Linked DNA regions of Homo sapiens: regions 1, 2, 4 and 5 are each linked to region 3. The links come from fine-mapping of genetic effects on plasma protein levels. A gene starts in region 3. Each other region holds a variant in brackets. All regions are shown on one strand. Distances are between the middles of the regions. Region 1 overlaps GEM (GTP binding protein overexpressed in skeletal muscle). Region 2 overlaps CDH17 (cadherin 17). Region 3 holds the start of CDH17 (cadherin 17). Region 4 overlaps CDH17 (cadherin 17). Region 5 overlaps CDH17 (cadherin 17).

Evidence for each region. PIP is the posterior inclusion probability: the model's chance that the variant is causal. Protein levels are from antibody-based Olink assays in UK Biobank. Linkage for the fine-mapping came from a reference panel and not from the study's own genotypes, which makes the PIPs less certain.
Region 1: its variant is fine-mapped to the plasma level of the CDH17 protein (UK Biobank, PIP above 0.99).
Region 2: its variant is fine-mapped to the plasma level of the CDH17 protein (UK Biobank, PIP above 0.99).
Region 4: its variant is fine-mapped to the plasma level of the CDH17 protein (UK Biobank, PIP above 0.99). The variant lies in the coding sequence of CDH17. If it changes the protein, the assay may bind it differently, which can mimic a change of level.
Region 5: its variant is fine-mapped to the plasma level of the CDH17 protein (UK Biobank, PIP 0.98).

What each region holds. Positions count from the first base shown.
Region 1 is chr8:94,243,100-94,249,661 of GRCh38, reverse strand. GEM (GTP binding protein overexpressed in skeletal muscle) reads left to right here. Exons shown (of 5, transcript NM_005261.4): 5 at 1-409. Among named protein-coding and RNA genes, the nearest start is that of GEM, 16 kb to the left of the region's middle. The variant A/G (reference allele first, on the strand shown) is at 2,539.
Region 2 is chr8:94,158,027-94,164,588 of GRCh38, reverse strand. It overlaps CDH17 (cadherin 17), which reads left to right. Exons shown (of 18, transcript NM_004063.4): 11 at 2,427-2,503; 12 at 4,427-4,618. The region is part of intron 1 of LOC105375647 (a long non-coding RNA gene); the gene reads right to left. Among named protein-coding and RNA genes, the nearest start is that of CDH17, 47 kb to the left of the region's middle. The variant C/T (reference allele first, on the strand shown) is at 3,801.
Region 3 is chr8:94,204,899-94,211,460 of GRCh38, reverse strand. CDH17 (cadherin 17) reads left to right here and starts at 2,906. Exons shown (of 18, transcript NM_004063.4): 1 at 2,906-2,978. RefSeq lists an enhancer at 4,180-5,379.
Region 4 is chr8:94,127,159-94,133,720 of GRCh38, reverse strand. It overlaps CDH17 (cadherin 17), which reads left to right. Exons shown (of 18, transcript NM_004063.4): 16 at 2,729-2,845; 17 at 2,982-3,095; 18 at 5,381-6,559. The coding sequence ends at 5,481. Among named protein-coding and RNA genes, the nearest start is that of CDH17, 78 kb to the left of the region's middle. The variant A/C (reference allele first, on the strand shown) is at 2,777.
Region 5 is chr8:94,188,576-94,195,137 of GRCh38, reverse strand. It overlaps CDH17 (cadherin 17), which reads left to right. Exons shown (of 18, transcript NM_004063.4): 2 at 433-503; 3 at 5,853-5,951. The coding sequence starts at 453. Among named protein-coding and RNA genes, the nearest start is that of CDH17, 17 kb to the left of the region's middle. The variant C/G (reference allele first, on the strand shown) is at 3,299.

The DNA.
Region 1 (6,562 bases), 38 kb before region 3:
TCTTATTTAGGGGGAAATTATTTGAATCAGATTCTATTTAGTCAAACCACCTTTTATGTTTTATTATTTTTGAATTCATGGAGCCATCATAAAAATATTTTTAAAATCAGAATTATTGATACCCTGTAGTGCAAAATGTCAATTTTTAATGTATAATCAGAAGTCTGAATTTTTATAAAACATATAGCATAAAAACTTCCAGTACTTTGGTTGACCCTTGTATGTCACAGCTCTGCTCTATTTATTATTATTTTGCAAAATAACCATTTTAACATTTGATAAAGCATATTTATGAACATATTTCTTAATAAGAAAAATATCCATTTTATTACCATTTTCTATCTTTTTCAAAATATGCAAGTTTTTACCTATATGTCTTATAATAAAAGAAATAAAATATTTGAAAAAAGGCATTCTTGATTGATTTTCCTCCCCAAACAAGATGATTAGGATTATTTTTATACAGCCTTTAGAGCAAGCACATTCCAAAGAGACATATGCCTATTGTTTTCTTTCTTTTTCTCACTAGCAATAGCCCAGTCATTATCCGTTTTAAAGGATATCCCTGACATCTCTGCTTTGAAATCACGATTCACGGTAATGCAAAGTTGTTTTTGGCTGATACCGTTGGGAAGTATTTGGGGTCATCTCAATGCTGTTATAGGAAAAGCCAGATTGACCTTTTACTTTGGTCTGGCAAATGCCTGACTGAACAGATGGGCTTCACTTTGCTCCCTGGAGGCTGATGGTCTTAAGCTTGACTAAGGCATTAGAGGAAGTTATAAAGGATTAGGGGGAAATAAAATAAAGGAATCTAGTGATTTCCAGCCTGAGATCTAGCCAGGCAAAGCTTTCACCAAATTCTCCTCTCTGACATTAATATGGCTTGACATTAATCACTTGGCATCTATCCAGCGGCCGTATGCAGCCCTTTTGCTGGAATGGAACTTCTGGTGTTCTCCCTTCACATCTTCTCTGGCCCTATATGCACCCTATTTCATTCTCTTCTCCCTAGCTTTTTGAGTTTGTAGTGAGACACACACTGATGGTGACAATCATGGGACTTCAGACATTCCCTAAAGCTACACAGTTGTTGTTTTCTTGAGACGGAGTCACTGTGTCACCCAGGCTGGAGTGCAGTGGCGTGATCTCGGCTCACTGCAACCTCCGCCTTCTGGGTTCAAGCGATTCTCCTGCCACAGCCTCCCAAGTAGCTGGGACTACAGCATGCACCACCACGTCAGGCTAATTTTTGTATTTTTAGTAGAGACAGGGTTTTACCATATTGGCCAGACTGGTCTTAAACTCTTGACCTCAGGTGATCCGCCTGCCTCGGCCTCCCAAAGTGCTGGGATTACAGCCACAAGCTATCACGCCTGGCCTTAAAGCCACGCAGTTTTAAAGGGTGTCTGCTCTGTTTTCATTGCCCTTTCTCCCCTTTTTCCAAGTTGAGCACAAAGGTTCCCATCTCTCTGCACTTTGCATCTTAGAATTGCTCAAGGCAATAGCATGGGGAGATGATACAAGTAAAGATTCAGGTTACATAGATCTGGGGTGAATTTTGGCTGTGGAATTTAGCAACATGGCTTTGGAGTAAAGGTTAAAGGTTTCTAGCTATCAGTTTTCTCATCTACCAAATGGGATTGCTAATAATACCCACTTGGTAAGGTTAACATCTTTGTGAGATTAACATCTTTTAACCTGCCATACAGTAAAGAGCTCAAGAGATCTTCCTTTTCATGGTTGCACATTTTCCATTCCGTATCATTTAGAGTTAGTTTTACATGTCTGTTTCCCCTAATTTGAATGGAAACTCCTTTGAATCAGGGACCACCACTCTGTTCCTCCTTACCCTTCTACTCATCAGTGCAGCGCACTGCATATACTGGGATTTTACGAACTTTCTTCTTGAGCTTCATAGATCCTCCCAACACCTATGTGAGGTCAATAGGCCATCTCACAGCAAACCAGTTCAGGTGGATAAATGACTTGTCCAAGTTTGTTCAGATGCTAAGTGTCTGAGCTAGGACTGAGGTCCACCTGTGACTCCTGGTCACTTGTATATTCTTATCTCCAAAACTTTCCTATAAACACAGCCTGTTTCATCCCCAGGTATCATCCTATACACAGAATACACAGACACACACACACACACACAAAATGCATATATATTCTTTACACTATTTTTCTCACAATCTCAAGCTTCCTCATCACTTCTTTTAGACCTTCCCAACCAAATGGCCAACAGATGCCAAGGCTCCAGGTTTAAGGGTATGTTCAAGGTTGTCATGATCACATTCCCTTGGCTTGAAGCAGGGCAGGATAATGCCGGCTGCAATCCAATCCAAGAGGATTTTTGGTTAAGAGCTTTAGCTCCAGGGTTAGACAAACCTGGGTTTCAATCTGGTTTCATCACTTACTGGATGTGTGGCCAAGAGTCAAGTTCTTTACTATCTCATAGCCTCAGTTTTCCCATCTGTAACATGGGAAGAATGCCCACCTCATAGGGTTGTGGTAAGGATTATGTGAGACCTGCAA[A/G]AGTTATGTCATCATCTCAGGGACAGCACTGACTCTGCCTGCTCTAGTGCAGCATCCACACCTTCACACATTCATGCATTCTTCAAATATTATTGGACACCCAGGTGCTAACAGCTGCTGGGAATATAATGATGGCTAAGATATTATCCTCATCCTCAGAGATCTCAAGAGTAATAAATTTGTCCTGAAAAGCCAAAGGAGGTAGCACTGGTGATAGGAAGAAAATAAAGAAATTGTGAGAGGATTATACCAGGAAGGGACTCAATTTTTATTCATTAGATAAAATTCAAATGATGAAAACGTTTGTTAAGATGATTGAGTTAGATGTGGAAAAGAAAATTGGGCCATTTAAAAAATTCCAGTTGGGAAAAGTGGGAGCATTGGGGAAAGGTGAGTTTTTAAGCATCCTACATTTTTGCTTACAAATACATGAACTATTCAATGCAGAGAAAGATGCAGATGATTCTAAATTCACTTGGGCAAATTTGTGGAGCTCCGGCTTAAGAAAAGTACTGTGGAGAACACATGGTGGGAGGAGGCAGTTTTGCCTTTAAGGTGCTTGTAATATAGTTAACAGTGGCAGGAAGCAGATGTAGTAGGGAATGGAGACAACTGCACAGAAACCTAGAACGTGAGGTTGAAGATAATATGGGCCATCGGAGACATGTGCTGTAAGGCAGTTTAGCTTTGGTGGAAGAAAAATCCTTTGCTTGGCGTTGCAGTAATGAATGTCTTTTTTTTTCTTTTTCTTTTTCTTTTTTTTTTTTTTTGAGACAGAATCATGCTCTGTTGCCCAGGCTGGAGTGCAGTGGCATGATCTCAGCTCACTGCAACCTCCACCTCCTGGGTTCAAGCAATTCTCCTGCCTCAGCCTCTGAGTGGTTGGGATTACAGGTAGGTGCCAACACGCCCGGCTAATTTTTGTATTTTTTGGTAGAGACGGGGTTTCACTGTGTTGGCCAGGCTGATCTCGAACTCTTGGCCTCAAGTGATCTGCCTGCCTTGGCCTCCCAAAGTGCAGAAATTACAGGCGTGAGCCACTGCACTGGCCCATGGATGTCTTCTTAGAGGAAGTGATGTTGAGCTTCATCTTGAAGACTACACAAGATTTCCACAGGTAGGATTGGTTGAAAGGAAGAAAAAGGGAAAAACTGGCCTATGTAAAGAAAATAGCATGAGCAATGACAGAGAGGCAGGAAAGGGAGAAATCTATATAGAAAAATGAGAGAAGTCCAATTTGGCCGGGAGCTTTCTGGGAGGCGTTAAGTGAAGGTGTTAATGTATGATGCTTGATAGCCTGAGAGATTTAGTTTCAAATTCTTACTTGTTGGGTGTAGTGGGTTAAACAGTCTTCCCCCAGAATTTGTGTCCACTTGAACCTCAGAATGTGACTTTATTGGGAAATAGGGTCTGTGCAGATGTACTAGTTAAGGATCTCAGAACGAAATCATCCTGGATTAAGGGTGAACCTTAATTCCAATATGTGGTGCCTTTATAAGAGAAAGAAGAGAGATTTTGACACAGAGGGGACACAGAGGGAAGAAGGCCATGCAGAGATTGGGGTTGCAATGCCAAGGAATGTTTACAAGCACCAGAGCTGAAGAGACAAGGAAGGATCTTCCTCTAACTCCTTCAGAGGATGCATGGCCCCGCCAACATCAAGATTTTTGGATTTCTATACTCTAGAACTGGAAGAGGATACATTTCTGTTATTTTAAGTCATCGAGTTTATGGTAATATCAGCAGCCCCAAGAAACTAAATACATTGGGTTACTTAGGGCAAGTCAATCTTAATGTGCCTCAATTTCTTCATCTGAAAAACAAGGATAATAACACACATCTTATAGGAATATCATTAGGATGAAATGTAAAGCACTTAACTTATCAATTTATTGTTTGCCCAAGAGGTGGAGAGCGAGTGAACTGTAAGGGTAAGTTGGGAAGCAATTGTAGAAGACATTGAGTTCCAAACTGAGAAATTTGGACTTGGCTTGGAAGGTAATGCAGCTGCTTGAATATTTCTAAACACGGGTGTGACAGATTAGAGTGGTGCTGCTTCAGGACATCGCCCAGAAGGGCTGAGCCTGGCAGGAACCGAGTCATGAGACCCACCCAGGGAGACCAATGAGGAAGCCACCGCAACGCTGGGACTCTCGTCCGAATCAGGAGAATTGCTTGAACCCAGGAGGTGGAGGTTGCAGTGAGCTGAGATTGTGCCACTGCACTCCAGCCTGGGCAACAGAGCAAGATTCTGTCTCAAAAAAAGAAAGAAAGAAAAAGAAAAAAGAAGACATTCATTACTGCAACAGCCAAGCAAAGGAGTAGTGAGTAAGGCATTTCAGGCAGAAGGAAGGAAGTCCTTCGTCAGGGGCAGCCTCAGCCCAGCATGTGCATTTGCTGTGCTTATTGGACTTAGCACACGTGTCCAGCAGCATTCAAGGTTTTCTGTGAGAAGTGCACATAAAGTGGTGAGGCCTGATGCCCACAATAGCCAGAGAGCAACACAAAATGACAGCAGGAGAGAAAGGGAGCCGTTCTGGCCAGACACAAGCCCTGGCCAAGGCCCTGGTGACAAGATTGCGCTGGAGTAAGATATGGAGTCCAGTCGTGTGACTGGATAGGAGACAGCCACAAAACGACAAGAGACTCTACCCAACCATCAGTAAATCATCCAGTCCAACCCTGGGGAAATGAGGAAGTAAATATTATCCACCTGTTTTTCTTGTCATGCAGCTAGGGAAAAAATAACATATGCAAACCAAGGACATGAGGTTTTTAGCGAAGGAACATACAGGTGATCGTGTGTATGCATGCACGTATGCGTGTGTGTGTGTGTGCATGCACGTATGCGCGTGTGTGTGCATGCACGTATGCGTGTGTGTGTGTGCATGCACATATGCGTGTGTGTGTGTGTGTGTGCATGCGCGTGCACGTGTTGGGGAATAGGGTAGAGGTGGGAGAGAGGGGGCTCACAGCTAAAGGAAAAGTAGAGTACTACAATTAGTAAAACAAATATCAATGAGACTCTTGTCTTGCTCCGCTCTTCAATACATATATTCCAAAAATGGGTATGCTGTCAGTCTTATTTATTTATTCCAGCATCTACCAAGGAAGGTGAGTATCCTAGAGCATGCCCTTTCTGGAACTCAGGACAAGTAATTGTTATTTCAGTTTTACTGGGATCATGCTCAAATAAAACAAAAATGTTCTTGTATCTTCTGTTGTATTAACGTTTTAAACCACTCCATTGGAAGTAGAGAAACTACCCCCTTACTGTCAGGCTTCTGGAAAAGTAAAAATGCAGGAGGACTGAGAAGTACTCTTGCTAGTATCACTCAGAGGCCCCAAGGCAGTTGCTTGACTTGGAGAAATTACCGTGTGGATAATTTGAGATAGCTTTGGAGAACACTTTCTTGAAAGGTATTTGCAATTTTATTTGCATATACATACATACCTATTATGCATATACATGTGTGTATGCACTCAGATATATATACACACACATTACATACACAATTTTTTTTTTTTGAGACAGAGTCTCTGTCGCCTAGGCTGGAGGGCAGTGACGCCATCTTGGCTCACTGCAAGCTGCTCCTCCCGGGTTCATGCCATTCTCCTGCCTCAGCCTCCCGAGTAGCTGGGACTACAGGCGCCCACCACCACGCCCTGCTAATTTTCTTTTTTTTTGTATTTTTAGTAGAGACGGGGTTTCACCGTGTTAGCCAGGATGGTCTCGATGTCCTGACCTTGTGATCCGCCTGCCTCGGCCTCCCAAAGTGCTGGGATTACAGGCATGAGCCACTGCACTCAGCCGACATACACATTTAAGCCAGTCTTGATTAAAGGTAGGGAATAATTGCAGTGCAGATGGCAGCTATTTTATTGATTAATTTTTATTTGTATAAGTTTATGAAGTACAAGTGTAATTTTGTGACATGAATATATTGCAGAGTGCTATGAAGTCAGGGTTTTTAGGGTATCCCTCACCCAAATCAAGTACATTGTATCCACTAAGTAATTTCTC
Region 2 (6,562 bases), 47 kb after region 3:
AATGCGGAATGTTTGAAACCCAGTAATTTGACAAATATTAAGGCCCTAATATTTGTCTAGCATTATTGTAAGAGATAGAACAGATGTAAGTATAATAAACCTTCCCTATTCATGACGAGCTAACAATTTCACACTATCAACAGTCCATTCTTTCAGCAGTTATTCTGCATTTACCTATTTGAGGCACCATGCAAGGTACTGGGGAGACATAGATGATTCTGTCCTCAAGGAGCACTCATTCTGGTAGAAGAGACGGACATGTGAGTCAGTAAATTGCAAGGAACTGCCCAAGGTAGCCCATGAAGGAAATAAGTGACTCAGTGGAGGGAGAGAACAGGTACTGCTTTCTGGAAGAGGTATTTCTGAGCTGGGCTTTGAAGGATGAATATGACAAGTTACAAAATCATGTAGGACTTATGGGAGAGTGGGAATCCATGTGGAAATACATGAGGACCTGGAGCAATTTGAAGATAGAGTTTAAAGTGGGAATCAGATTACAAATTGTTTATTTGCATGAGTACGTCTATAGAAAATATGGACCAGATTATAAAATATATTAAAATACATGTGTGTGTTGATATAACTAAACATTCAACTGTGCACTACAGAAAACTAGAGACTAGGCTATAATTAACACAGTTTTACATAAAACCAGGGAAGGCCTTTTACCCAGAAAGGCCCACTGCTGGTCAAACGAGGTGTGTGCAGAGCAGTGAGCCAGTGGGTTCTGGGTCTGGGACCACTCCAGTCTTCAGCCATTCTTGTTGTCTACAAACGTTCTGAGGACCAGCCTTAACTTCAATCAATATCCACTTGGTTGTAATTGGATTGTTAATAGATTCTGTCCCTGGGATCATGTCCAGTGCATTGAGCACCAGCTCTAGAGTTAAACTACCTGGGAATATTAGTCAGGATCCCAGCAGGAAGTGGAGACTCCCCTCAAAGAGTTGAAAGAAGGGATTGTTTGCAAAGGTTGTGGGCAGGGTTAAGGGAAACCAACAGGAGGTGTGAAGCACAGTAAGCAGCATTTTCTGCCCTAAAACCTGAAGGAGCCAGGGAGGGGAGCATCCCCCAAAGGAGCAAGGCCTGTGCCTGTCACTAGAAGAGGGCTGTTGGCAACGGGGGCGTGACACCCCCAGCTACACTCTTCCTGTCCTCCCTCCAGTCTCTTGCCACGCCTCTCAGTGGCAGAACCCAACTGTTACCCTCAGGGTGAGGATGTACATTGATGCAGTTCATAAGGTCAGCCCCTTGGGCTACAGAGCACAGACAGAGGAATGGATGGTGGCTGCAGAGGGCAAAGGGAACCTCTGGGTTTGAATCCTGGCTCCATCACTAGTTAGTTGTGTGACCCTGGTTAGGTTACCTGAACTTCTCTATTCCCTGGCTTCCTCATCTGTTAATTAAATGGGAATGACAGTAGCACCTACAACATGAAGTTATCATGAAGATGAATGAGTAACTCGGGTAAACAATACAGTTGCTGCTATATAGAGGCCGCTAACAACTGTATTATGATGAAAACATCTGTTCTGTTATTCACAGTTTACAGATAAATTGAGTGAGGCACCCAAGCTCTCACATACATGCTAAGTGGCAGAGCCAGAGTCCAAACAGTGAATTCCAAGCCCAGAGTCTTAACCATTATACAGTGCAGTGCACCATGGTTAGAACAACAGCAACCCAACAAAGAACCTGTCATTTTATCTCTTGTTCTCTCTCCCCCAGGCATCCTGTCCCCACCTGCACTCCACACACATCTGGAATCTAGCTGAAGTGGCTGTGTGCCTAGGTCTTGGAATTGTGAAACCCATCCCTGAAAGCCTGGGTGATTTCTCCAGGGTTCCAGGAGCTACCTCTGTCCCCACCTTGCTTCCTGCAGGCTGGGTAGCCAGACTCTTGTGAACAGGCCAATGGTGGTAGTTCCTCCCTTATTTAGATAGAAGAGAGCAGGCCCTTGGACCTCACCATCATAGTAGTCAGAGCAGATGTAGGTTGGATGTGTTCAGAGAAGGAGAGACAGCCACTGGGATGCTCACAGAAGGCTTTCTGGAAGGACAGTTTTGCTCTGGACTTTGAAGATTACATAAGTTTCACTAGTCAGAAAAAGACTGCTTCACAAAAGGAAGCCATCCTGCTCAGGAACAAACCTTACCTAACTTTACTTAGGAGGACAGCAGGTGGACGGCAATGAAAAACCTAGAAAAATCTCTCTTAGATCTGTCTTTAGCCACCCTGCCCCACACTTGGTGACCACTTGGGTACAGGTGGGAAACAGAGAGCCCACTCTCTGCACAAATTGCATGTCAATTGCAAAATTGTGGCTATGGCTGTCACTTCACTTGCCAAGTATTTTCTTGCAGATTTCTGATATTAATGCATGGTTTTCAGTGAAAATTTCTATGACATATGACTTTGGTTTTCAGATTTCAAGACCCTTTGTTTTGTGCAAATCAACGTTATTGATATCAATGATCAGATCCCCATCTTTGAAAAATCAGATGTGAGTAGTTGTCATTATTTGTTTTTTCTTTACTTTATTCATTTTACTTCACCCTTTCTTCTGGGATAGAGACACAGACAGTAGCTAGGAAAAGTGCCAGACTTAACAGGTAACCTTGGTCAGTGCACAAATAACCCAGATGCCATCTTCAGTGGAACTTTTTGGGGAACAATAACATTTACTATTACAGGTGTCTGGGAACATTCATTTATAAACTCCTGCCAATAGCTCATTTATTCCAAGGGCTGCTTAAAAACAACAACCACAATCTTTGTCAAATTGAAAAAAGGTGAATGGCGGCTTACAGTTTGTCATTATATATTTTTTTGTGTTAGGACAATAAATAGATTTACTGCTAGGTCTCAAGCATTTTTAGCCAAAAATTTAATATTTGGAATATTGGCGATTTAATTTGTAATAATTGGGTAAGAGAAAGGGAGAAGAAAAAAATTAATCTCTGACTTAAGCCAAAGAAAAATGTGCCCAAGACATTTGAGAGAATTAGAACTGGACAGAAAGAAAAAAGTCAATTTAGAACCTCAAGAAAAATGCAAATTACTGTTTTCTTGTCATCGATAGGGCGTTCAGACTTGGTGATGACTTTATCATTGTTTCCCTAAGGAGGGAAGTCTCTATTTTGAAGGAGCAAGAAGCCTATTTGACTAGACTGTTATGTTATTTTTGAAGTCAGTTATGAGGCAGCCCAGAGCCCTGTGATGATGTTCATAAATCAAAATAGGGACAAGCCTGCAACAAAGAAGGGAATTGATTTATGAGGGGGCTAGGGGTGGGAAGAGGTGTGAGTGGATATGTCTTGTATAACAGGCACTGAGGTTCAGCAGGCATCAAATAACCCATTTCTTCTCAGCCTCCATTCTCTTGGGCTTTTGATCCTTTCCTAACTTTGTGACCTCCTCGCCTTTTATCGAGACAGTGTTTTTTAGATTGAGGGTAAGAATCCTGCACTTGAGGTCTCAGAGCTTAAATACTAATCTGGCTACAGAGAGTGAACCTGCTTGTTTCAATGCTGTGGTCCTCTCTTCTGAGACCTACTTATAACCTTCTTTAGGATCATGATGCCAAGAGAGATAATCTGGGGGATTTTCAGTGGAGTGGGAGATGGTCTAGGCCAGTGTTCAAGAGCATAGGCTTTGGAGTTGCACAAACATGGCTTTGAATCCCAATCCCTTTGACCCACTAGCTGTGTGACCCTTGGTGGGTTTTACTTCTCCAAGCCTTTGCTCCTCGTAAGTGGAGATGGTAACATAACTACTCCGTAAGGTGTTTTGTTGATTTT[C/T]TTTATTGAGCACTTACTATGTGCCAAGAATTTAGGAGCTTTACATGCATTGTCTCCCTTAACACCCACAGCAAACATGAAGTAGGTTCTATTACTATTGTCTCCATTGGACAGATGATGAAACTGACACTTAAAGAAGTGAAGTAACTTGCTTCAAGCCACTCAACTAATAAGAAGCAAGCCTACAATTCATATTCAGGCTGTTTAACTCCAAAGTTCAAGCTTTTAATCAACCTCTATTCATTGGTTGATTTAAGAATTAATTAAATAATGTATATAAAGTGCCTACCACCTGATAGATACTCAATACATGGTGGCTATTTATATCATTACTACTACAATAATTAAGTTATTAAACAAATTGGATATGGGAGGGGGAATTTGTTTTAGAATCCTACCAGTAGCTCTCTGAGGTATTGCGTTCTTTGGTACAATGGATATCAGCTCATGAGTATGACTGATGTTAAAATCAACTGCAATATATTCATCAATAGGAAAAAACATGCCCCATGAAGATTGATGCAAACTATGACTTGTGTCTATTCTGAAACCAGAGAGATAAGTTTGTCCTTTGGCTTTGATGACAGCAGACCTTCTCATTGTTTCCTTCTCCATTTTCTCCTTAGTATGGAAACCTGACTCTTGCTGAAGACACAAACATTGGGTCCACCATCTTAACCATCCAGGCCACTGATGCTGATGAGCCATTTACTGGGAGTTCTAAAATTCTGTATCATATCATAAAGGGAGACAGTGAGGGACGCCTGGGGGTTGACACAGATCCCCATACCAACACCGGATATGTCATAATTAAAAAGGTAAATAGCCCATTTATTTAATAGAATTTGTCTTTGTTTGTGGGTTAATTTACTAATGACAGTGTGAAGACCTATAAGCAGAGGTGATGTATTAGCAGCCATCTCTCAGGCATGGTGATGGGTTCCTGGATTCCTGGATTCCTCTTAGTCGTTCCTGTCTTCCTGACAGACGGGAAGTCAGGATTCTAGACCTGGCTCTGTTGCTAGCTAGCCAAGTAACTTTTGCAGGGAGGTAACGTCATATAAAATATATAAAATGCAGGATGAACAATTTTTTAGTATAAGTGTGTTCTATGCAATATTTGGGATGCACTTATACTAAAAACTTGTTTGTCATTTATCTGAACTTCAAATCGAACTTGGTGTTCTATGTTTTTATTTGCTATTTGCTAAATCTCGCAACACTCTTACGGTCTGGGAGTGGCACTCAGGGTCTCGCTTTCACTTCCCCCTTTGCAAATGTGAGGAGTTGGGTTGGATGACCCCATGGGCCTTTTAGGCTGTAAACCCTTTATTCTAATGTGCCAGGCAGAGATACCTTTTGAATAATGCAACTGCTGGGTCTCCTTCCAAGGTTTAATAGACAAGTGTCTTTTTAATCCCCCTCTCCGCTGCTTTACTTTCACCTTTTACTGTATTGCTAAGCCCACGGGCTCTCATTCTGTCTCTCCCTCTGTAAGGACTGGATAATCTGGAGTCAAAGTCTTAATTACCTTGGTTCCTGTCTCTTTGTACAGGATTCTCCCAACCCTCCCTCAATCTACTCCTGTCCCCTGCCATGTATACCTGAATCTTGACTCTTTTCTCTGTGGCTGCCTCATCTGTGTTTAGAGCATGTCATGGGTTTACCAGATGACTCAATTGGAAGCAGCACTCAATGCCGTCCAATGTACTTACAGTTAAGATACTTTCCTAGGAAAGAGAGTGAAACCTCGCTGTTAAAAAGGGCCAGAGAGAATCTGCAAGGGTGGCTAATTGTTTAAGGTTTGCAGTGCAGTGTGCTGGAAGCTGCAAAGGAAAGCTCTGGAGTACAGTTTTGAGCCAGAATAAAAGAAAACTGAAAGAGGCTAAAAATGAAGACAAAATAGAATAATTTCACAGAAAATGGACAGAAGCACAGAGAAAAAAGCACTAGTGCTGAAGCAAGCCCTAGGACAGAGCCTTGGAATTGTGATCCTACTGTTACCAAACATTCCAGCTTGAACCAAGGGCCCTGCTGCATTTCAGCAGAGAGGTTGCTGTGGACCAGCTCAAAGCCTTAGCCTTGTGTGTGAGTCTGACATTTGGAAAAGGTACCATGACAACCTCCCCTTGTGCTCACAGCAGTCTGCATGGAGAGAGAATACCACAGAAAGAAAGGATAAAGGAAAGGGCAGTTTTCAGAGCTTGCAGTGGGTTGGTGTGTTCCTTTGCAGGTGACGGGGGCAGCTTCCTTTTATCCTTTTGCAGGACCAGAGCTCTCTAGGAATCTAAGGGAAGATAGAGGCCCATCCATCCCAGTATGAACAAGGCCCGTATGTCATATTTTTTTGAACAGCAGTTTAACTTGGCCATTTGTGGTTAATGGGCCCTTTTAGGGAGATGTTGGCACCTATCTCAATGATTAGCTGTGGGTGAGAGCTGTAAGTATCCTCCCTCACAACTTGACACGAGAGGTATGCTACAGTAGAGTAGGCCTCTGACCAAACTCTTTGTCACATCCTTACTTTATATGTGGTTCTATTTCAAGTGTCTATTATGTCTCCTGGCATATATTAGAGGTTCAATAAATATTGCTTGACTTAATGAATAAATGAATTCTGTCCCATATACAATTATGAACAAGCAGACACATAAGTGATCATCGAACCTGTGCTTTAGGCCTGTGACATCCCAGCTCTCTGTCCCTTGGGCACTGTGATAACTGTCCTTGAGCAAGTGGATTTGTTCAACCATCCAGAGGCA
Region 3 (6,562 bases):
GGGCACCTGTAATCCCAGCTACATGGGAGGCTGAGGCAGGAGAATCACTTGAAACTGGGAGGCGGAGGTTGCAGTGAGCTGAGATTGTGCCATTGCACTCCAGCCTTGGGGACATCAAGACTCCATCTCAAAAAATAAATAAAATAAAATAAAAAAGAATATAAATATTAGAAATGTAACATGCTTTGACTTTTAGGAATAATTCCAAGTTTTCATAACTTTTTTGTCTGGGAGGCTATCTAGACTTTCTTACAAATGTCCATAAATTAATTACTTATTTATGGACATTTGTATTTTCTAGGGATAATATTGGAGGAATGCTTAAAACATTATAGACAAAAGCGTTGAAATGTTTTCACCACCATGAAGCTGTGAGTTGAAAGCATTAGCCCAAGTCCTTTCACTTGTTCAGTTTTGTTTTCTTTTTTTTTTTTTTTTTTGAGATGCAGTCTTGCTCTGTCGGCTAGGCTGGAGTGCAGTGGTGCAATCTCGGCTCAATGCAACCTCCACCTCCCAGGTTCAAATGATTCTCCTGAGTCAGCCTCCTGAGTAGCTGGGATTACAGGCACCTGCCACCACACCTGGCTAATTTTTGCATTTTTAGTAGAGATGAGGTTTCACCATGTTGGACAGGCTGGTCTCAAACTCCTGACCTCAGGTAATCTGCCTGCCTCAGCCTCCCAAAGTGCTGGGATTACAGGTGTGAGCCACTGCGCCTGGCCTTCAGTTGTTTTCATCCTATAAATCATACCTCCTTTGCTTTGGAAAATTAAATCAGTAATATTTATCAATTACATTTTCCTTATTCCTATTATTAGCAAGTCTATTGAACCAGCAATGTCTCACTTTTCATGAAAATGAGTTCCTAAAATGCAGTGGTGGCTACCTGAAACGTGCACATTCTTAACATTTGGATTTAATCTGGAAGGATGTCTAAACCATGTAAGGAATATATGAACAGCTCTCAGAATCTTGTTAACCTGGTATCCCACAGTACAGAAATAGCTTCTGTAATTCAGAAATGCAATAATCACCTGTTAATTTCTCTGATGGGTGGTTTAGGCATTTTCAGTGTTTAATTAACCTAATTCTTTGAGCTGGAAGCTGGGGGCTAGAGATAGCAAGTGATGTACAGAGGAACCCCATTTCGGAACTTGGCCATCTTCCAACAGGAATGGGCTCATGCAGGGATTTCTGCCCTTGGACTTTTTTTTTTTTTTTTTTTTTTTTTTTTACTCGCATAAAGCTGGAAGGAAAAAAATCTGGCAGAGTCTATAGCTGTAGTGAATAGGATGGGATTTGAATCAGAACAGGGTTGCAGTCCCGATTCTGTAGTCAAAGGCTGTGTGACTTAGACAAGAAATAAAACCTCTCTGTGTCCCCATTTTCTGTCTATAAACTGGAATCTACTTTGCAGACATGCTAAATGAGAAAACAGAATTTTAATTGATATACCAACATGTCACGATCATTGTTATTGTTGCTGAAAAACAATGACTATAAATGATACATATGCACTTTATTTTTGAAAAAAAAAAACTCATAAATTTAAAAGCACTTTATTATTTTAAAATTTTCAAAGAAGACCCAAACTTCTTTATGAACAATGCTGTGTGATGAGATGCTTGCCCTTGATTCCAGGAACTGAAACATGTGGCAAGTGGAAGCGATTTGATTTTGTAGAACAAGCACACTTTATTCAGCTAATGGGAGGGCAGAGGTGTGAAGAATGTGAGAAGTGCTTAGCCTCAATAACCTCATTCTTCTAAATGAGTGATGCTGGCTGTGGGACAAAGCAAGAAGGGCCTTTGCTGAACCCACCAGTCCACCAAGGATGTTAACAGCTGGCATGCAACTAGATGGTTTCACTTGCAGGGTCCTCAGGATAAATGAGGTCTATTCCCACAGTGGCTTAGAGCACTCATGAAACCTTCTCATGAAATCTGGAAAGGAGGGAGCCCTTCTAGAGAGTGGGCTGGGCTCTCTTGCTTTCCCTCTGTCAGATGCACACCTGGAGAGGAATGGAAAACACAACCTCAGCTCAGGAGAAGCCAAGAAATGAACATGAGAAGGTCCACAGAAACAGGGCCAAGTGTAACACACCAGACACAGACATGACATTGATGCTCACCTTCAGTGTGGATTCCCAGAGTGACCAAAGTGTGGAAATCAGGAATTGGTCTAAAAGAAGCCTTGACTTGAGAAATCTGGGGGCATTGGCTTTTATTGGTTAATCAAAAACCTCATTTTGATTGGGGAAAAATAAGTTGTTCCTAGGTAAATCCATTCCCTGAATTGTGGGGGGGAAAAAAGGACTTGGTTTGTGTTTGGGGGAAATTTGCTATCGGTTGTTTCTTGCAGACTTTGGAAGGGACCCTTGGATTTCAAAAGCAGGCACAGCCATATTGTGTCTTTCCTCATGTCTTCTGAGTCATTTATGATATCTCATGTGGCTGGTTATCAATGAACTGTGTCATTGCTCAGACATGGCGCCCCTGCTCCGTCTTTTGTGTTTGAGATGGAATCTACATAAATATTTGCTGATCAAGTCTCCTGTGCTAAGTGTTGGGGGTACAAAATATGGAAAGTCTTTGATGTCATGAACCTCACACTCTAGAGATAGTTGGATACACAAAAACTTTTCCACTCTAACTTCTTGTCTTTTCATTGACTCATCTACATTGAAAAATGTAGCAACCTGTTTTGAGATGGATTAGATGTAAGTTAAACTTCTTTTGATACAAAGTCATTTCTTTCCTGGAGTAAAAGTAATGACACTTTTTATGATACCCAGTGGCTCTCGAAGAGCAATAAAAAATGTTAATGGTTAATGTTTGACTGAAGCTGAAGGGAGAGGCTGGGAGGCAAAGCAGGGAAGAGGGAGTGTTCCCGGGGGAGATACTCCAGTCGTAGCAAGAGTCTCGACCACTGAATGGAAGAAAAGGACTTTTAACCACCATTTTGTGACTTACAGAAAGGTAAGGGCTGACATGTCTTAACTGTGTCAGTAACGTATTTATTCCAGAAGGACAAAGTAGATGGAGGGGGAGGGCACTTAAAAAGTTGCTTGACAAATTTGTTCCTTGAGGTGGGCTATGCAGATGCGGAGAAGGGAAATTTGTTGCTGGCATGACAAGTTTTGCTTATGGAGCACAATTTTTTTTTGTAGTTTCTTTTCATTGGTCCATATTTTATAAATTCATTTGATGAAGTGGCTGCAGTGAAATCAAGCTTGGCAGTGGAATTAAAGGGGAAATTGAGTTCTCTGATGTTTAAACAAGTATCACATCCATTCTTTGTGATGAGTATATAAAAGTCCCTGGTCTTAAGATGCTCTAGGGCTCTTGTATTCTAGAAATTGGGGTTGGAATCACATTCTCAAAAAGCATGTCATTCTATCTACTTCTCAGAGAATGAGATTCAATTTGGGATTCTTAGAATTGTCTAGGACACAGCAAGGGAGGGAACATGCAGAGAAGAAGAAAAGTCTTTTTGTAAAAGTACTAGAATAAGAATTGAAGACAGACAGACCTGCCTTCACAAGTGAGAGAAGAGGCTGATGTGCGTGTTAATCAGCTTCCTGGGCTGCTTTTGGCCTTGGTGGTGGAGTTACCACCTGCTAATGTGTGGTTATTTTTATGTTAAGCCACACACAGCTTATTGGTATCTTCAATGGTCCGATATTTGCCTCTGTCTTGGTCTTTTATGACAGGTGACTTTATAGGGACAGATGCCCTCTGTGGTAGGGGATGCCAAGCAGCAGATTGGAAGGACAGTGCCTTCTCTAATATTTTCTTGTCTTTATTTTTCTTCAAAAGCTTAAATAGCAAATGAGGCATTATTTGAAAGAAGAAGAAAAAACACATGTTTAGATGAAAGGAAGATGAATGCTATTCAGCTCTCACCAGGAAACAAAGCGAGTCCTTTACTGAGAGAGGGTTTCTAGTGAGTTACGGGGCCATATGAGTCTTCAGGGTTGGCCAAATGGGTTAGGCCAGTTTCATCATTTTCCAACCTGTGGGCACAGAACAGAGAGCTGCCACTAGAGACTTGCCTAACTAGGTAGTTGTGAGAAGTAAATTAGATAAGTAGGTAAAGAGCTTACTATGTTGCTTGGTGCATGGTACACATCCAGTGAATGTTAGCGCTCTGTTCCATGAGAAAGTTCAAGTAGGTGACTCAGGATGAATTGAGAAATTTTTGTTTCATTCTTTAGAAAAATAAGAAAAAAATCAGTGATGCCATAAAAATAGCATCTACCATTATGCAAGAGAGGAACTAATTCTATGTTCAGGAAGTAGGATTCAAAAATATGAGAATAATAAAACTATTGGTTTTGCTATATATATAGCATTTTAAAGCCCCTCTCATGGTTCCCATATAAGTCTTTGGGTGAGGTGCAGGTGGGGCATCCTTTGAAACTCACCCAGATGACCCCTGAAAAAAGTCATCACTGTTCAAGGTGAAGGTTACATTTCCGGTACCTCCTCCTTTCTCATACAAAAGGCAAAATATGGCTGGGTGTGGTGGGTCATTCCTGTAATTCCAGTACTTTGAGAAGCTGAGGAGGGAGAACCGCTTGTGCTGGAGTTCAAGACCAGCCTGGAAGGTCTGAACATAGGGAGATCCAGACTGTACAAGAAAATTAAAAATTAGCCAGGCATGATGGCACTTACCTATAGTCCTAGCGACTTGGGAGGCTGAGGTGAGAGGATTCCTTAAGCCCAGGAGGTTGAGGCTGCAGTGAGTCATGATTGTGCCACTGCATTCCAGCCTGGGTGACAGAGTGAGAACCTGTCTCAAAAAAAAAAAAAAAAAAAATCTGGATGATGTGCAAAATATATCCTGGCAGAAACTCTACTTCTCGTTCCATTGTCAAAAAAAATGTCTAGAAGGATGTGTCCCTCATTTTTCTTCCACATTAACAGCAACAGCTCTGAGGAGGAAAGCTGGGCATTGTCATGCTCCTTGCTCTGGAGGCCGACAAACAGTGCTTGAACAGAAGCTGGTTCACATGGGTAGAGATGTATAGATTTGACATAAAATTGCATTGATTCAGAAATCTCTGGTATCAGATTTAGAATGGGGCTAGTTGTTCTGTAACTGCTCGTTGATTATCCAAAGAAAGACACACGGAATTTTAAGGGAATACCTATCTACTTATTTGTTACTTGTAAGAACAGACAGGAAGAAGAAGGAATGTTTACTTAGGTACAAGAAATATTAACTTAATAAAAGCAGATATTCCCCTAGTGGCTGAGGTATTAACTACACTAAAGTTGATTTTTTTTTTTCACTTAAGCAATACGTAACAAGCTAAGCTATGCTTGATTTTTGTGTATGTGGTACAAAGAAAATTTCTCTTCAAATATTCTGTAAGACTGACATGGAATTCTCTCATTCATGATATTTCTGAGTTATTCATTTTTGACCATATACTTATTACTTAAAAATATTAGGACTTGTTCTTAAGTGACGGATGAGGAGAATGGAAATGGTAGATTTGTTCCCTTAACATCTAAGCTAAAGATGAGTTCTCTTCCTCACCAAGAGGCCATCTAGCAGAGTGGCTTGGTGCTTGGCCCCTGCATTCACACCACTTCCTCAAGCGCTCTAAGCATCAGTTTCCTGCTCTGTGGGATAACAACAGGACCCACATTATATGATTGTGTTGTTCAAGTAAGTTGTCCAAAGTGTTTAACTTAGCTTGCATTTGTTGAGCATTTGCTATTTTTTAAAACAATTCCAATGATTAAAAAAAAAAACAATTCATGAATGAGATTTCATCGTGGTCTGGCACCTTTTATTAAGCAGAATTAAATTTATTTTCCCTTCCTCTCCTACCCATCCCAGTTGTCAGTTACGATTTAATTACAGAAATTGGAAAGTGAACCTGCCATACTTAAGCATGACTGCACATTCTTGGCATTAAAATTCCTGCCTTGGGTCACTTTGCAAATGAACTGGTATTAGAGTATTTTTCTTTCTCTTCTCTTCTCTTTTCTTTCTTTCTTTCGATCCTTCAGTGTCTAAATCCTATGGGATGGAACCTAATTTAGATTTACTTCCTACTGAATTTCTAAGGCCAGGATGTGTTGCTTTATTATCTTGACAAAATGCTCATCCGTAAACTTTATATTACATAAAGAAATGTTGTGTAATACATAAAGAAACACTTTGTCAAAAAAAAGTCAAGCCACCCTTTATGAGAAATAGTGATTCCAGTCCTCCTCTTTAGTCCAGGGAAGATGCTTGTGATATTGTTCTGCTAGATCTGGGGGAGAAAGGGTCTCCCCCTGCCACCTTCTAGGGTTTTTGCGGGTATATAGCTGCACACGTGAGGGAAGTCAATGCTGAAATTCTTCCTGGCTACCTGCTTAAAACCCATTTATGCCTAGTGTTCCATTATTGGAACACTAAGCATGTGGGAGTTATTTATATCCTTCTGCACAAGGTCATCGTCAAGGTCTGATTGCAAAAATTCAAAAAATTGCAACCTCAGGTATAAATGGGTTACAACATCAGGCAAGTGCCCTGGTGGGACAGTCACTGTTGTCCCTAG
Region 4 (6,562 bases), 78 kb after region 3:
TGCCCTCTCTCACCACTCCTATTCAACACAGTGTTGGAAGTTCTGGCCAGGGCAATCAGGCAAGAGAAAGAAATAAAGGGTATTCAATTAGGAAAAGAGGAAGTCAAATTGTCCCTGTTTGCACATGACATGATTGTATATTTAGAAAACCCTATTGTCTCAGCCCAAAATCTCCTTAAGCTGATAAGCAACTTCAGCAAAATCTCAGGGTACAAAATCAATGTGCAAAAATTACAAGCGTTCCTATACACCAAAACAAAGAGAGCCAAAACATGAGTGAAGTCCCATTCACAATTGCTGCAAAGAGAATAAAATACCTAGGAATCCAACTTACAAGGGATGTGAAGGACCTCTTCAAGGAGAACTATAAACCACTGCTCAACGAAGTAACGGAGGACACAAACAAATGGAAGAACATTCCATGCTCGTGGACAGGAAGAATCAATGTCGTGAAAATGGCCATACTGCCCAAGGTAATTCATAGATTCAATGCCATCCCCTTCAAGCTACCAATGACCTTCTTCACAGAATTAGAAAAAACTGTAAAGTTCATATGGAACCAAAAAAGAGCCCGCATTGCCAAGACAATCCTAAGCAAAAAGAACAATGCTGGAGGTGTCACACTACCTGACTTCAAACTATACTACAAGGCTACAGTAACCAAAACAGCATGGTACTGGTACCAAAACAGATATATAGACCAATGGAACAGAACAGAGACCTCAGAAATAACACCACACATGTACAATCATGTGATCTTTGACAAACCGGAGAAAAACAAGCAATGGGGAAAGGATTCCCTATTTAATAAATGGTGCTGGGAAAACTGGCTAGGCATATGTAGAAAGCTGAAACTGGATCCATTCCTTACACCTTACACAAAAATTAATTCAAGATGGATTAAAGACTTAAATGTTAGACCTAAAACCATAAAATCCCTAGAAGAAAACCGAGGCAATACCATTCAGAAGACAGGCGTGGGCAAGGACTTCATGACTAAAACACCAAAAGCAATGGCAACAAAAGACAAACTTGACAAATGGGATCTAATTAAACTAAAGAGCTTCTGCACAGCAAAAGAAACTACCATCAGAGTGAACAGGCAACATACAGAATGGAAGAACATTTCTGCAATCTACCCATCTGACAAAGGGCTAATATCCAGAATCTACAAAGAACTCAAACAAATTTACAAGAAAAAAACGACCCCATCAAAAAGTGGGCAACAGATATGAACAGACACTTCTCAAAAGACATTTATGCAGCTAACAGACACATCAACATGATCATCACTGGTCATCAGAGAAATGCAAATCAAAACCACAATGAGATACCATCTCACACCAGTTAGAAGGGTGATCATTAAAAAGTCAGGAAACAACAGTTGCAGGAGAGGATGTGGAGAAATAGGAACACTTTTACACTGTTGGTGGGAGTGTAAATTAGTTCAACCATTGTGGAAGACAGTGTGGTGATTCCTCAAGGATACAGAACCTGAAAGACCATTTGACCCAGCAATTCCATTACTGGGTATATACCCAAAGGATTATAAACCATGCTACTATAAAGACACGTGCACACGTATGTTTATTGTGGCACTATTCACAAGAGCAAAGACTTGGAACCAACCAAAATGTCCATCAATGATAGACTGGATTAAGAAAATGTGGCACATATACACCATGGAATATTATGCAGCCATAAAAAAGGATGAGTCCATGTCCTTTGCAGGGACATGGATGAAGCTGGAAACCATCATTCTCAGCAAACTATCACAAGGACATAACACCAAACACTGCATGTTCTCACTCATAGGTGGGAATTGAACAATGAGAACACTTGGTCACAGGGCGGGGAACATCACACACCAGAGCCTGTCAGGGGGTGGGGGTCTGGGGGAGGATAGCATTAGGAGAAATACCTAATGTAAATGACGAGTTGATGAGTACAGCAAATCAACATGACACATGTATACCTACGTATCAAACCTGCACATTAAGTTCTAGGGTACATGTGCACAAAGTATTAAAAAAAACCACACAGGGTCAAACCTAAAAGATGACCCATGATAAAAAAAAAAATGGCTTTGAACTATAGTGCTGAAGTGCTATCTAGAATTCCTAAGCACAGGAAGGCTGTGATGTGTGCCTTACAGGGAAAAATTGTGGTTTGGGACACAAATTAAAAGTAATGTCCAAAACTGCAATTATTTTCCACCAACCTAAATATGTGTGTTTGATAAGCTTTGTTCAGGAAGTTCTAGTGCTGTTAGATGTGAGTTAAATGTTAGAATGAACAATATATGTTAAATAAGATATCTTTGAACAGCAACACACAAAAAGCAAGGTTATGTATTGATCAGTTGGGGAAAATATGACTAGAAGCTCACAGAAACCTAACCCTGTCTTTCCTCTAGGAGCAATGGTTCAGCATTCATTAATTCAGTGTTTGGGGCAACTTTATAGAGCATAAGTGCTACAAATGATAATTGACTATATTTAGTATAAATTTCTACAGAGAAATCATGAATTAAGAACTTAAAGGATGCTTTAGCCCTTTCTTACCTTATGGGAAGATACATGTGGAATGATGTGGATGATACTTTGGGCAGTTTAACTCATATCTAGCCATGTTCCAGTCAACCTTAGTATGTGATACAAAATGAGCTTTATTCCTGCTAATCCAGGGTCTGAAGTTGTATTTTCATTTTTTTTTCCTGTCCTGGCAGGTACTCATGCCCGACTGTCTACCAGGCACACAGAGTTTGAGGAGAGGG[A/C]GTATGTCGTCTTGATCCGCATCAATGATGGGGGTCGGCCACCCTTGGAAGGCATTGTTTCTTTACCAGGTAGATATTCTGCTATAGGCAACTCAGGCTAGTATCTGTCACCATGGGCCGTTTGAGGAGATTCTTGTCTTTGATATGGGATTCTGCAACTATTCACTTGAGAATTTATCCTACCAAATACTGTCCTGCTTTTCAGTTACATTCTGCAGTTGTGTGGAAGGAAGTTGTTTCCGGCCAGCAGGTCACCAGACTGGGATACCCACTGTGGGCATGGCAGTTGGTATACTGCTGACCACCCTTCTGGTGATTGGTGAGTGTAATTTCTTAATTCAAAGAGTCTTATCCTGGGCCTCAGAAATGTGAGCTCATCTCAGGGCCTGTCTTCCTGGACTGGTCTGGTGGCTGCTCAAATGGCAACTCAGGCAATAGCCCAGAAGGTAGATCACCAGCAAATTACATCAGACTTTCTTGATTGGAGTTACAGCTTTAGTACTACCCTCTGTCTCTATTGCCTTATTAGTTTAGAAATATAAGGGGCTTTATGGTCATCAATTGTCATATATTATGCCTAGTTACAAAGCTTTTGTGATAAAGAGGGAAGAAATGCAGTAGCTGTGCCATGTGTCAGGCACTGTGCTTGATGGGGAAAGAGTGACATACACAGATCCTACACCAGAGTTTATGGTCTCACCTGCCATTGTTGTTACAGGCAGAAGTTAGCCTTCCAGTGGCGATGCTGAGATATCTGAAATGTGTAGTGCAGAACTTCCCTATGCATAGAACCCTGATTCTTTACTACCCAGAATAACCCATTGCATCATGACCACAGCCTCTGCCATAGCCCCTTGCTTGGCTAGACAGTACAGTCCCCTGATCTAGCTGTCTTTTTCTTTTTTGCAAACAACTCAGTGCCTATTCCAAGTGTTTCCTTACCCAAAATGCTTGAGAGCAGAAGTGTTTCAGATTTTGGGTTTTTTCCAGATTTTTGAACATTTGCAAATACACGATGAGATATCTTGGGGATGAGACCCAAGTCTCAACACAAAATTCACGTGATTCATAAACATTTTATACACGTAGTCTGAAGGTATTTCATACAATATTTTAAATAATATTGTGTATGAAACAAAGTTTTGCCTGCAACCTGTCACATGAGGTCAGGTGTAGAATTTTATGCTTGTGACATCAAGTTGGTACCCCAAAAGTTTCAGATTTGAGATTTTCAGATTAAGGATACTCAACCTATATAGTAATTGCCCTCTTTCAACTGTTGTCCCCACCACAAGTTAAACATTAGGAATAGATACTTCATTATTTCATGTGTACCTGAGTGAAGGGGTTTATGGTTTCATATCCTTTTTCTTTTAAAAGAAGGACTAGGATTATTCTAAGTATTATTGATTGTTCTCTCAGCATCTGATCTTTTCTCCCATGATCCAGTGTGTCACACTGGACTCTGATTCATGCATCTAAAGGGGGTCTCACTTCTTTATACCCTTCAGTCTGGACTCCCTATGGCATGGGAGGGCCTTCATGTCATGGCCACTTCCCATCCTAATGTGTGCATGGTGATCATCTTTCCTCCCTGAGAACCACTATCTACTGCACACTTTTCATGGTAATTGAGCTGTCTTTTTGAGGTCCCACTCACTTACATAGGTCCCTTCTGCCTCTGTGCCTTTTCTTATTCTATTTGCCCTCCCACCTTGAAAGGATTTTTGAATTTACAAATCAGATAGCAATTTTCTTAACGTATCAATTTAATTCCATAATCTTACCACAAGTTAAAGACTGCTTGAGTTTGGGGACATCCAGAAATAGAAGTAATAGGATTTTACAGTTTCATGACCTTATTTTCAAGATAGGGTTGGAATTATAAGTTTCTGAGCATCCAGACTTTTCTGCCATGATTCCTCCTATAAACTTACTAGCAGGTTAATTTCCTTAAAACAACTCCTTCTTCATAGTGGACTCTGACAGTACACAATCAGTGCTGAGCTGCACAGTGTAATTTTGATGTATCAGGTGGGAGAAACCAAGAAGGTTAAGTAGTCTACCCAGGGTCCCACAACAACATAGGCAGGATCCAGGAGGAAGGCGCCCAAGGAAATGCGATAGTTGGTATGGACACGATGAAAATCAGCTTCAGGGAGGTGAACAGGTCAGAGAACAGCTTTCTAGTTGTGCTAATTGGATTGTTTTCTCTAGGAAAGGGGAAGAATAGAATCAATATTAAGTATATATAAAGTTCAGGAACTTTGTCAGGTGCTTATACACTCTATAGTGTGGGACATATACACTCCATAGTGTGGAACATTAGGTCCTATATTCTTACAGCGAGATCCAGTGAGAGCCACCAAGTCAGCTATGATTTGGGACTTGATACATACATACAACAGGATAAATGATAAGCTCATTTCTCCAAGAAGGCCAACGACTAGAGTCCCTTATTCACTAGGACAGTGAAATTTTGTTGAATCACATACAAAAATGAAGTTGAGTCATTTTTTTCCTACCACAATACTACTTTATAACTGAATGTGACAGTACATTTTAAAAGGTCCCATTTATTTGACCCTGGGTTTTTTCTTTTAGGTATAATTTTAGCAGTTGTGTTTATCCGCATAAAGAAGGATAAAGGCAAAGATAATGTTGAAAGTGCTCAAGCATCTGAAGTCAAACCTCTGAGAAGCTGAATTTGAAAAGGAATGTTTGAATTTATATAGCAAGTGCTATTTCAGCAACAACCATCTCATCCTATTACTTTTCATCTAACGTGCATTATAATTTTTTAAACAGATATTCCCTCTTGTCCTTTAATATTTGCTAAATATTTCTTTTTTGAGGTGGAGTCTTGCTCTGTCGCCCAGGCTGGAGTACAGTGGTGTGATCCCAGCTCACTGCAACCTCCGCCTCCTGGGTTCACATGATTCTCCTGCCTCAGCTTCCTAAGTAGCTGGGTTTACAGGCACCCACCACCATGCCCAGCTAATTTTTGTATTTTTAATAGAGACGGGGTTTCGCCATTTGGCCAGGCTGGTCTTGAACTCCTGACGTCAAGTGATCTGCCTGCCTTGGTCTCCCAATACAGGCATGAACCACTGCACCCACCTACTTAGATATTTCATGTGCTATAGACATTAGAGAGATTTTTCATTTTTCCATGACATTTTTCCTCTCTGCAAATGGCTTAGCTACTTGTGTTTTTCCCTTTTGGGGCAAGACAGACTCATTAAATATTCTGTACATTTTTTCTTTATCAAGGAGATATATCAGTGTTGTCTCATAGAACTGCCTGGATTCCATTTATGTTTTTTCTGATTCCATCCTGTGTCCCCTTCATCCTTGACTCCTTTGGTATTTCACTGAATTTCAAACATTTGTCAGAGAAGAAAAACGTGAGGACTCAGGAAAAATAAATAAATAAAAGAACAGCCTTTTCCCTTAGTATTAACAGAAATGTTTCTGTGTCATTAACCATCTTTAATCAATGTGACATGTTGCTCTTTGGCTGAAATTCTTCAACTTGGAAATGACACAGACCCACAGAAGGTGTTCAAACACAACCTACTCTGCAAACCTTGGTAAAGGAACCAGTCAGCTGGCCAGATTTCCTCACTACCTGCCATGCATACATGCTGCGCATGTTTTCTTCATTCGTATGTTAGTAAAGTTTTGGTTATTATATATTTAACATGTGGAAGAAAACAAGACATGAAAAGAGTGGTGACAAATCAAGAATAAACACTGGTTGTAGTCAGTTTTGTTTGTTGATCC
Region 5 (6,562 bases), 16 kb after region 3:
CCCAGCTACTTGGGAAGCTAAGGTGGGAGAACTGCTTGAACCCAGGAGGTGGAGGTTGCAGTGAGATGAGATTGCACCACTGCACTACAGCCTGGATGACAAAGTGAGACTGCGTTTCCAAAAACCCCAAAACAAACACTCATTGCCCATCATTTAAGACGCTGAAATGAAGAAGATCATAACAAAGCAAAGCAGTTAGATAAATGGAATTATTGTGAGCATGTTTTGAGATGTTGGCTTGCATATTGCTATGGATGATGTGCATGAAGCTTCTGGAAGACTGGGCTGCTCCATATAGAGGAGAGGCTGGCCTTTTGGGATACCATTTTACTAGATTTATAACTGGATATCATCCATTGATTCTTACTGATTGGAAAGACATGATTTTAACAGACTGGTAACTAACCATTTTTTTATCTGGTTCCTTCACAGGAATTTGAATAAAGAAAACTATGATACTTCAGGCCCATCTTCACTCCCTGTGTCTTCTTATGCTTTATTTGGTAAGAGAAGAGGGTGTTCTTCTCTATTTGTTTACTAGAATATTTTCTGCTATCTTTCTACCCCACACCAGGGAAAGAATGGCTATTATTACTTAAAAAAAGATGACCTATCAAAATTAAGTTGTTGTATAGAATGGAAACATAGCTTGTTCCACTGTGATATTTTCGATGAAATGGCTACAAATCACATGTCTGCCCTCGACTAGGGAATGTATTTTCTTTCCAGCTCTTAAAAGCCAACACCAGTTATGGGTAATGTTGAAAACAAATCTATCTATAGCTCAGGGAATCTGAAATGACATTGCACTGATACATGAATTAGTCTGTGTCCCTTAATCTTGACTTTCTTTTTTAAACTTTGCGCATGAAAACTTACCACCAAAACATCAAGAAAAGCATTTTCTCTATTTTCAGCCTTGCTCTGCTCTATACTTTTCTTCTCATCAAGGGTTTGGAATTTTCTGGTTGTCTTTAACCATTTGTTGGGTTAACCCTATTGACTGACAGGCTTCTAGAGCTCGGAGCTGGATAGAAACTGGGGAGTCCTCACCCTTGACCTTGGGGTAAACAGTAGGTGCCTTTTTTTAAAATCTACGTGACTGCTGAGGTTCATAAAGGTTGCCCCCAAAATTGCTGCATTATGAAACGAGATTATAAGATTTAGAGGAAGCATTTGCTCTCTTTTTTTTTTTTTTAAAGAAGGAAGCTTCTAGATCCTCATACCTCAAATCTTACTTCCTTTCTTCTGGGATCCATAAATAATACATCAAATTTCAAGTCCCAAAAAATACCCTAGAGCTCACATAGTGACAGTGTGAAATTGAATGAAACTTGAAAACTATCAGAGCCTTCCTCCCGGGGGAAATCTGCAGTTCAAACTTTATGAGAAGCCTGAGTCCTCACAGCCTGCAGGCTCAAAGCCTGTCTCCAGGATTGTGGAAGGGCTGGATCAAACATCCCCACTTGACCTCTCTCCTCATGCTACCCCCTCAAATGCCCTTTGTCACCTATGTTATCCCAGGGTAGTGACAAATTCAGACATGGATTCAAACTCGGTGCCTCCACTACCAGTGATAAGAATTTGGTGAGTTACCTAAGCTTTGAACCTCAGTTTTCTGCCCTGTGAAGTGGATCTAATAATAGTACTTGTCTTATGGGATTTTGTGGCAATTCAATGAGATACTGCATTTACAAAGCTCTTGGATCAGCGACTGGTGGTTAAACACACAATAAACATTAGCTACTATAATTACTACAGCATTTTAAGTGTTCAGTGTGTACGTCCACATGGACTCTGACCTCCATGAAAAATGGACTGTGCTTTTATCATCTTTGCAGATTCAGCACTGAGCACACTGCTAAATTATTTAATAATAATATCTAATTATTAGGCCTTATTTGCTTCTTGTCTGAGAAGGGAACATGCATTTTTATTCCTGGATGAAAGGTGAAAATAAGGTTTCCTTCTCTCTACTCTCACCCCAGTGGGATTTCTATCTAGAGTGAAAATACTGCCCAACCACTGCTGGCAGCAGTGCCTTACCCAGGTGAAAGCCACAAGCACAGCTGTCTCTGGGTGAAGTCAGGGAGTGGGATTTCAGGGGTGTTGGGAGGGAGCCACTTCTCTCTCCTACCTCCTCCCAAGGCCTCTTCTATGAAGACTGGAAGTTTGCTTGAAGAATCTTGCCTTCTGCATAGGGCTTTATTCAACAGAAGCACTAATTTACTCCAGACTGCGAGTAGATCTTCTGTTCTTTTCCAAGAGATAGATTTATCAGAGGGTTAGAAACACAAATACGGCATTGATGTACTTCAGGGGCACCAAAGAGAGAGTAAATAAGTGATCCAGGGTTTGGGAAATGGTACTGAACAGGGAATCGGAGGAAACCAAGGCAGAGCCATCTGTTTTGGAGTTATGCCTGGGCCTTCCAGAAGGAAGATGAGTTTGGTACAAATACTACATAATCACTGCACTGAGCTCTTGATGGAGCTACCAAGTAGGTGAACCTGGCAATTGCACATGTCCTTTGACCTGGAAGGCAGTAACAATGTGGTTAAGAGTTGGGGCTTGGTGGTCCAATGGCGCTGGGTCTGGTCTGGAGGTAGCTCTGTCTCTGAATGCTTTGCTTCTACTGTGGGACTTCTCTGGAGATACTTTCTTCATAGCATTGGTCAGAAGAAATGATGTCTTGTGGTGATCAAGTCCCATTACTGCCACATAAAAGATGCTAAAAATGACTTTAAGATGGCAGTTCCATTCTCTTCCTTTCACCTCTTTGTGCAAGATGGAAAACGCTATTCCCTCCAACTCCTGCATAAAGCCGCCATCTTGTCCTTTCACAGATTTCCACCATACCATCTTTCCCACTTCTGGGGAAAGCGGCTTGATGATTCACAGTGTCCACATGCACTTTGAAATCTTTATAGCCCCAATAGTCATGTTTATTGGCAGGAAGAGAGATTTGTTGCCCCAATACAAGCACGCAACTTTGAACCCTGGAACCAAGACTTGATTCTCATTTTCTGATGGGTGAGCCAGCTTGTCCTTGTTGGAATAGTGCAGCCTTGTTTGTGTGTGGCTAATGTAGTTTTCACTGGTGTGACTAACTGAAAGACTGCTTGCTGACATGAGTGCAAAGCTGATAAGCAGCAGCTCCACAGAAAGCACTGACCTCACTTAAGCAACCATGGTGGTACCTGGACATCTGTCCTGCACACCCAGTTCTTATGCCCTGCCTTCTAGAGGAGCTGATGGAACAGGAAAAGATGTGGAAAAGGAGTGAAAGGGATGAAGA[C/G]CTCCCAAAGGAAGATAAACTTAGAAAGGAGGAGATGGGCTAGAAGTCTGGCAACATTACTTTGTGAGTTAAGGATGCATTTTCTTGGCCGGGCATGGTTGCTCATGCCTGTAATCCCAGCACTTTGGGAGGCTGAGGCGGGTGGATCACCTGAGGTCAGGAGTTCGAGACCAGCCTGTCCAACATGGTGAAACCCCATTTCTACTAAAAATATAAAAAATTAGTCGGGCATGGTGGGGGGGTGCCTGTAATGCCAGCTATTCAGGAGGCTGAGGCAGGCGAATCGCTTGAACCTGGGAGGCAGATGTTGCAGGGAGCCAAGATCGTGCCACTGCACTCCAGCCTAGGCAACAAAAGTGAAACTCTGTCTCAAAAAAAAAAAAAAAAAAAGCATTTTCTTGCAAGTAACAGGAAATTTGACTTATTTGACTTTAGAGCATTTTAAATAAATAGGGGTTTATTTTCCTCAGATAACAAGAAGTCTGAAGTAGGCAATCCAGGGCAGGTTTAGCAATTCCATGATGTTGCAGAGACTTGGGCTACTTTTCTTTGCTACACCATTTTTTGAGCTGGTTTGTCCTCTCAGGGTTCATCACAGCTGCCCCAACTGCAGACACAAGGTACATTGTCTCAGCAAGAGTCACAGGAAAGGGCAATGGCAGCCACAACTACCCTTTTTTTTAAAATCAGGAATATGGAAGCTTGACCACTGCCAGTGGACTTCCCCTCTCATTTCATGAACCAGAACTGGGCCACTTGGCCACCTTCCTAGCTGCAAGTGAGCCTGGGAAAGGGAACTTGGTTTACCGGTCTCTGTGGTGGGAGGAAGAAAAGGAGAGGGCTTGGCAGTGGCCCAGGGGCAGCAAATCTAAGGCCCTACCACAAATCTGAGAACAGAAGACCAAACTTCAAAGCCCCTGTGTTCTCATTCATTATTGCTTTTTTGCCAGACATCCAGCATCCAACTTAGTCAAGGTTCCCCAGACTGAGGGATCTAGCATAAGACCTTTCTCTGATCACTGGCATATTGATGGCTTTTGGGTATTCCCAGCAGGGAGCAGTTTCCATGGCAAGAGTGTGCTTGCTCTCCCTAAATAACTGGAAAATAAATGGTTTTCCCCCAACCTAGTGGCACCTGGACATCTGTCCTGCATACCCAGTTCAGGGAGTGAGAAGACTTTTTACTCTTTTATTTTTATTGTCTAGCTCCAAAAACCATTGGCTTGCCACATCATGCTTCTGATTTCAATCTCTTTCACCCCTGATTTCCACAAATGGGAGACCCAAAGTCGTGCCCAGGAAGGAGAGAAGGCCAGCGTGGGGATGAGGCACTAAATCCCTGGTCCTAGAGGGTGCCCCAACGTGGCTGCATGACTGGCTGTCCCTTCCCGTGGGTGCCCACTCCATCTGCCTTCAGAGGTGCTGTTGTGGTGAGGGCTACAGTGATGCTCCCCATGTTCTGAGACTGGGAATGGTGGGAGTCACACTCTCATGCACATCTTCAGTGCAGCCTGCCAGTTTTCCCTCCAGGTTGCCTTGGCTGTTTCACCCGCTCTGGTGGGTGCTGGTGCATAGAGGCTGAGAGGGCTGGTTCCAGAGTTGCAGGTTCAAATCTTGCTTCCAGCCACTACCTGGGCAAATAATTTAACCTCTTTGGGTCTTAGTGTCATCACCTGTTAAACAAGGGTAACAATAGTAACTTTCTGCCAGAGTTTTTGTCAGGATTAAATGTGCTTAGGACAGAGCTCCACATGTACTAACTTAGCAAGTGTGAGCCACTCTTCTTACCATCCCAGCCACATTCACTACTACTCCAGTCTTGACTTGGGTGTCTGCAGAGCCTGCTTAGCTTTCAAGTTTAGGGTCTTTGGATTTTGGAACCATTGTGGGGCTACTGCTTAAAGTAAACATTTTGTACTTTTATTTTTTTCTAAATGAATGTAAAGAGCTAATCAAATGTTAAAATAGTAAGCTTTGCTTAAAGTTATAGTTCAAATTCAGATTCAAATTTGGCTAAAACTTACCGTGTAACTGTGCCAAGCAAACTTTGTACTAAATACGTCTATATTTTCTTTCTCCCCCTTATAAATTCAAAACACTAGAGTGCTGGCAATCTGCTGTAAATGTCTTTATAAAATAAAAAGAGTGGAGGGAGGTGTTTTATGAAGCTGGAGTAAAAACATATATAATTTAGAAGACAGTGTGGGATTGTGGAAGACCATGGGCTTTAGTTCAGTTAGGCCTGAGCATGTGTGCTGTGTTAACCTTTTTAAGCTTCATTTGTAATATGGGGATGTTAACATTCTTCTCATAGAGTGATTCTTCTCATCTCACATTCTGCTCAGATGTTTAAGAAAAGCAATGGAAAGGTTTGTAACAAGCTACTTTGACGTGGTAGAGCTTCAACAGCTATTACACTCTTTCCTGTTTTGATCAGATTTCAGCCATGATAGAATCCTATGTTTTGTATATTGGTGCTGGAAGCCCTAATAAAATCAATGAGTGACACAGACACTTCATACAAGATGCTAATTTTCTCTTTCTTTTTTAACAGGCAACTGGATATGGCCAAGAGGGGAAGTTTAGTGGACCCCTGAAACCCATGACATTTTCTATTTATGAAGGCCAAGAACCGAGTCAAATTATATTCCAGGTAAAAGCTACCCTTGATCACTGTCCTCTTGATTTTGTATGCTCTCTTGGTGGACTTTTACTTCCTTATCTATTGTATAGCAGGAAATAAAATAAAGGCATGGCATTCTCATTATCAAGAATGATTTCAGAAGCTAAGTTAAACAGAGAGATGAGTGGCCTCAGTATCATAAGAATTGTACCTGACATTCTATTTGGACTTCCTCAATCATCTCTGGGGCGAGTGCTCCCAGCCCTCTGCAGGGAGCTTGGTGGCTGCAGGCTCTGCCTCTCCCCTAGAGTAGAAAGGGAACCTGTCTCTGGAGAGGGGAATGACCATCCACCCTCGAGGCTGTCTGATCAATGAGCTTGCTGCTTCAAGTACTGGAAGATACGGCTTCTCTGGAGTCAGTGCTAGAATGAGCTTTCTGGCCAGAGGACTGCCTTTTCCTTACCACCTTCTCTGAGCCCCCATGTGGGCCATTGTCAAGGTGCACTGGGAGGTGGACGTTTTATTTAGTTAGATAACCATGAACAGTATCAGATGGAGGGGCAGTCTGCAGGTGGGAATAAGGGAAGGGACCTAAGTCCCATCTTAAGTGCTATTAAAGACACAGAAATAATCCTGGAAAT